Regions from separate parts of the Homo sapiens genome. Here region 2 is linked to region 1. A link means that fine-mapping ties the variant in region 1 to the expression of a gene that starts in the linked region. Tissue or cell type: monocytes. Region 1 holds a variant in brackets; the other region holds the start of a gene. All regions are shown on one strand. Distances are between the middles of the regions. Region 1 overlaps LOC105371512 (a long non-coding RNA gene). Region 2 holds the start of ASGR2 (asialoglycoprotein receptor 2).

Region 1 (3,008 bases):
TTGCGGTGAGCCGAGATCGTGCCACTGCACTCCAGCCTGGGCAACAAGAGCGAAACTCTGTCTCAAAAACAAAACAAAACAAAACAAGGCAAAACCTCCAAATCAGACACTGCCTCCTCAAGCTCACCTATAACACCCAGTGCATTTCACCTCGGAGCCAGAAGACCGACTTGGGAGCCCCTCCCTCTCTGCAGGAGAGAGAGCTTTTCTTTCTCTTGCCTATTAAACCTCTGCTCTTAAACTCACTCGTCGTGTGTGCCTGCATCCTCAATTTCCTTGGCATGAGACGATGAACCTTGGGTATTACCTCAGACAACGAGCTTCAAAAGCTTAATGGAACAGACCGTCTACCCCTGTTGTGCCCTGCTTAGCTCTGTCCCGGAAGCCACTAGGCACCTAGGCTGTGACAGTTTCAGTCTTTAACCCCCAATGACAGCTTGCTCAGGGCACACCCAGTCCCTCCTTAGTGCTGCTGAGCAACTGCACCGTGTCCTCGGGCTCCAGAGGAAAAAACACTTCAGTTCATAGCCCTGCTCAGCAGAGGTCCTCAAAGCACATCTTCTCAGCCTCTATCTGGTGAGGGGGCACCTTCAGCCTGTGCCAAACGCGGCTTCCCTCACAAACCCTACCAGGCCTTAGCACTGATACAGGATTCTAGGGACTGAATGTTTCTGTCCTCCCCACCCCGGATTCATAGGTGGAAGCCCTACTCCACAGTGTGATGATATTTGGAGGTGGGGCCTTTGGGAGATAATTACATTTAGATGAGGTTGTGAGGGTGGGGTCCCCACGATAGGATTTGTGCCCTTGTTGGAAGAGAAGGAGGCCAGAGTGTGCTCTCTCATCCACGTGAGGACACAGCAAGAAGGTGGCTGTCTGTAAACCAGGAAGTGAGCCCTCCCCAGACACTGGATCTGCCGGTACCTTCACCTTGGGCTTCCTAGCCTCCAGAACTGTGAGAAAGAAATGTTTTTTTTTTGTTTAAGCCATTCAGTCCGTGGTGTTTTGCAATGGCAGTGCAAGCTGACTAAGACACAGGGTCACTTGTTCTATTTCCTCTTCAGTCATGATGGGCTTCCCTCGGGCCCTTTGGTGCCTTTCCCCGTCAGTGGACTTCAGCTAGAGCCTCTGTTCATCACAGAGGTTCTAAGGACATTAGATCTCCAAAAGAAAGGGACTAGGGTCTCAAATTTCTTTGCTTCACAGAAGCTTTTTGGCCCCACCTTTCAGTGACCTGTCTGCAAACCAAAACTGGCAAAGAAGGGCAGTCTCCCCTGAGCCACTGGAGAAGTCCTGCCTCCCCTGCCTGGGGTAGGCGACGGCTGGCTTCCCACTTAAACAGTTAAGGGGAGCTGCTCAGTGCTTACAAAGTCATTTGCTAACTTGCCTAGACAAAGAAGTTATTAGTAACTTTTACATGTCAGCTTGGGTAAACAAAACAAGTTTAAGTTCCTGTAATCAGGCAGCATGTTTTTATTATTATTATTATTATTTTATTATTTGAGATGAAGTATTGCTCTGTCGCCCAGGCTGGAGTGCAGCGGTGCAATCTCGGCTCACCACAAGCTCCGCCTCTCAGGTGCACACCATTCTCCTGTCTCGGCCTCCGGAGTAGCTGGGACTACCGGCGTCCGCCACCACGCCCGGCTAATTTTTTTGTATTTTTAGTAGAGACGGGGTGTTTCACCGTGTTAGCCTGGATGGTCTCCATCTGCTGACTTCGTGATCTGCCC[A/G]CCTCAGCCTCCCAAAGTGCTGGGATTACAGGCGTGAGCCACCGCGCCTGGCCACCATGTTTTATTATTAAAAGTTAATGGGGGCCGGGCATGGTGGCTCACGCCTGTAATCCCAGCACTTTGGGAGGTCGAAGCGGGCGCATCACCTGAGGTCAGGAGTTCGAGACCAGCCTGGCCAACGTGGTGAAACTCTGTCTCTACTAAAAACACCAAAATTAGCCGGGCATGGTGGTGGGTGCCTGTGGTCCCAGCTACTTGGAAGGCTGAGGGGGAAGAACTGCTTGCACTTGGAAAGCAGAGATTACAGTGAGCCAACATCGCGCCATTGCACTCCAGCCTGGGCGACAGAGTGAAACTCCATCTCAAAAACAAAACAAAAAAAGTTAATGGGAAGAAAAGCTATAGCCAGCAAAGGTCACAGGCAGGCTGGGTGGCTATGAGACCCCTCAGAGAGGCTGGGGCTGGGAAGGGGTGTAGGGAGGGTAGATTACATTCAGACTGACTCATGCTTACCTCAGGCTGTGAGATCCCAGCCCTCTGGGCAGATCCTGAGTCTGGAGCAGGCTTGGCTTATACCAGGTGGGGCTGGGAGACCCCTCCAGCAGGTCCCTGGAGGCCATGGCAGATGTAGCTGGGCCCAGAGCATTACATGCCATGAATGGGAGGAGAGCCGCCGTTCTGTTTGATTTTCTCTCAGCTCTCCTGTCCTTCTCAGCAAAATTAGTTTGAGCCTCTGCCTCAAAACTTGCAAAGTGAGGCTCTGAAACCCCGTCAGTGAAGATATGCTCGCATTTGGTCTTTAAGGAAATAGCTCTGAGGGACTCTCGAGGCAGTCTGTGAAGGAGGCAGGCTGCCAAGACACCGTAGGGTGATGCTGGGGGAAGAATCATCACTGGTAACCCCGATTGCAGGGAGCGGTGGTTGGCGGAATCCCCTGGCGGGAGGCGCTGTCTTCCCAGAGCAGGAGTACAGTGTCCTCTGGGTGGAGAGAACTCAGCAAGGCTGAGGGTGGGGTTGCTCAGCCTGTGCAGATTCCCTTACTTACTTGTCCCGTCTCCCCACTTCCTAATTTTACTATAAAAGAGGGAAGGAACACGAAAGTCTGTTAGGGCAGAGAGGCTGTGGATTGCATTTAGTGTATCAAGAGTAAAACTCAAGAAGCTCTTTTTCAAATAATCTTTTAAATTTGGGGCTTATAAATGCAATCGTCCTGGTTTCTGAACTCCATGTAATAGATCTGGGGATGAAACAGAAGCTATCACGGTCTCAGGCCAA
Region 2 (2,754 bases), 24 kb after region 1:
CTGCCCGTAGCCATCCGCCCAAGTTTGGTGAGGGTCAGAAAATCATGCACAAAAACTGTGTTTTCTTTCCCGAGCTATTGTTAGCGCAAGTGTAGACAGTCAGCCACGTTCCTTGCTTCATGGAAGCCAGTCTTCCTCGTAGGACCATGAAGACCTTTTCTTTTCTTTTTCTTTCTTTCTTTTTTTTTTCTTTGAGATGGAGTTTCTCTCTTGTTGCCCAGGCTGGAGTGCAATGGCGCAATCTTGGCTAATGCAACCTCCGCCTCCCAGGTTCAATCGATTCTCCTGCCTCAGCGTCCTGAGTAGCTGGGATTACAGGCCCCTGCCACCACGCCCGGCTAATTTTTGTATTTTAGTAGAGACAGAGTTTCACCATGTTGGCCAGGCTGGTCTCGAACTCCTGACCTCAGGTGATCCACCCACGTCGGCTTCCCAAAATGCTGGGATTACAGGCGTGAGCCACCGTGCCCGGCCAGACCTTTTGTTATGATGTTATTTTCCCCTCTTTACTCCATTTTGCTTTGCCAGTTTCTCTACTCACCTGGGCCACCACCTAGAGCAAGTTGCCTCATCTCTCCGAGGCTCCGCTTCCGAACCCTGTGAAATGGGAGTAACAGAAGTCCTGCCTCGTGGGGGTGTTGTGCTGTGATAAATGAAGAAACACCTTGGAGAATTTAGGGCAGTGGCTGGGCCTGAGGACAGTGTTTGTGTTGCCTGGGCTGGGGCAGGGTCTGGGCCGGACGGGGCTCTCTGAGGTTGGATTCCTCCTGCGAGGAGAGCTGTTTTTCTGCAAAGCCCCTTCCTCCTCCTGCTGAAGCTTCTGGATTTGAGAGGCTTTACTCTCCAGGAGAGTGAAGCGAGTTGGGCCAGAGCTGAGAGTCTGGTGGCCGAGCCCACAGGAAGCTGGGGTCTGTGGTTCAGATGCCGGATTGGGCAAGAGTAGAGAACTGGTCGCTGTGATCCTGGTCAGGGATATTTGGAGACACCCACAGTTCTGGTAAATTCGGAGGCAGGAAGTGAGAGGGGGAGGGAGAGAGGGAAACGGCAAACTGCACCCCAGCCCCTCCTGGCCTGGCACCCCTTCCAAATGGTGCAATGAGTGGGGTGAGTGGCGTGTGGAGTTGAGCGCAGCCCAGGGGACCCCCCTCTCTGGGAATAAGAACAGAGATAGCCCCGTCCCCTGCCCCCACCCCACAAATGAGTTACAGCTCTGTTTCCTCTTCTGTTTACTGTCCAAAGTCCCAGGCCAGGAGGTGCCAGGTTAGAGCTTGGACACTCAGACCCTCCAGTGCAGGCCTTGCCCGGACCAGCCCCTCCTCCACTCTCCTCTCCCCTGTGAGCTCCACCTGCCCCAGTTCTCCTGGCTTTAACCCCTCCTTGGCCAAGGCCAGGGTTGCCTGCGGGAGCCAGGTGTCCGCTCTCCACACCTTTCACAGGTAACTGAGGCTGGGGAGGCAACTGGGACGAGGATGCTTGGGAACAAGGAGGCCTTGGTTCAGGGATGGGGAGGACCCCATGGGAAGCTGTGGGTGGTCGGGTCCATGAGCGTGGGGAGGGGTCTCCTGGCCAGGTCAAGGCCCAAGCGGTCTCCTGAGAAGGGAAAGGACCCAGCGGGATTTCAAACCTCATCCCAAACGCCCTGCCAACCTCAGATCCTACCCAGGCCACCACCCCGAACCCCTCCGACCCTGCGTTCCATCCCACCATCAACCTCCACGTGAATCTGCACCTCTGCCCCAGCCCCAGCCCTCAGAGCAACCTCAGCCCAGCCCAGCCCAGCTCCAGCTCCAGCTCCAGCCCGGGCCCCATCATGGCCAAGGACTTTCAAGATATCCAGCAGCTGAGCTCGGAGGAAAATGACCATCCTTTCCATCAAGGTGAGGGGCCAGGCACTCGCAGGCTGAATCCCAGGAGAGGAAATCCATTTTTGAAAGGCAAGTGTGCAGTTTCTGCGGCTTTGCTCCCCCTCTGTCTCAGCTCATGATTGCTCTGTCCCTTTGAGGTCTCTGCCGCACCCACTCTGTGAACAGGGACTGAGGAGGGCCCGACACCCCCGCTTGTTCCCTCACCTCACCTTCCTGTCTACCCCAGGACCCCAGGAAAGGCATGTGCCAGAGGTGTGGGGAGATCTGGAAGATAACTGCCTGCCCTTCTCCTCCCAACCCAAGAACACATGTGCCTCGTATGTGCGTGTGCACGTATGTGCATATGAGGAATGCAGATTCAGCTGGGACTCTGTGTGTGTGTGTGAGTGAATGTTGTGTGTGTGTATATGTGCGCGAGAGCGTGCATATGTTGTGTGTGTGTATGTCGTGTATGTGAGAGGGTATGTTGTGTGTGAGAGTGTGTTGTGTGTGTATGTTGTGTGAGTATATGTTGTGTGTATCTTGTGTGTGAGTGTATGTTGTGTGTTGTGTGTGTATCTTGTGCATGTGTGTATGTTGTGCGAGTGTATGTTGTGTATGTGAGTGTGTGTATGTTGTGTGTATGTTGTGTGTATGTATGTTGTGTATGAGTGTGTGTATGTTGTGTGTGTGTACGTTGTGTATGTTGTGTGTGTGTTGTGTGTGTGTATTGTGTGAGTGTATGTATGTTTGTGTGTTGTGTGAGTGTTGTGTATGTTGTGCGTGTGTGTATGTTGTGCGAGTGTGTGTGTTGTGTGTGTATGTTGTGAGTGTGTTATGTATGTTGTGTGTGTGAGTGTGTTGCGTGAGTGTGTGTGTTAGTGTGTGTATGTGATTGTATGTGTGTGTG

Evidence for each region.
Region 2: it holds the start of ASGR2, and the variant in region 1 is fine-mapped to the expression of ASGR2 in monocytes (Fairfax 2014, PIP 0.95).

Annotation. Positions count from the first base shown.
Region 1 is chr17:7,137,037-7,140,044 of GRCh38, reverse strand. LOC105371512 (a long non-coding RNA gene) reads right to left here. Exons shown (of 3, transcript XR_934191.3): 2 at 2,247-2,807. Among named protein-coding and RNA genes, the nearest start is that of ASGR2, 24 kb to the right of the region's middle. The variant A/G (reference allele first, on the strand shown) is at 1,734.
Region 2 is chr17:7,113,297-7,116,050 of GRCh38, reverse strand. ASGR2 (asialoglycoprotein receptor 2) reads left to right here and starts at 1,229. Exons shown (of 9, transcript NM_001201352.2): 1 at 1,229-1,436; 2 at 1,741-1,934. The coding sequence starts at 1,811. RefSeq lists an enhancer at 291-1,077.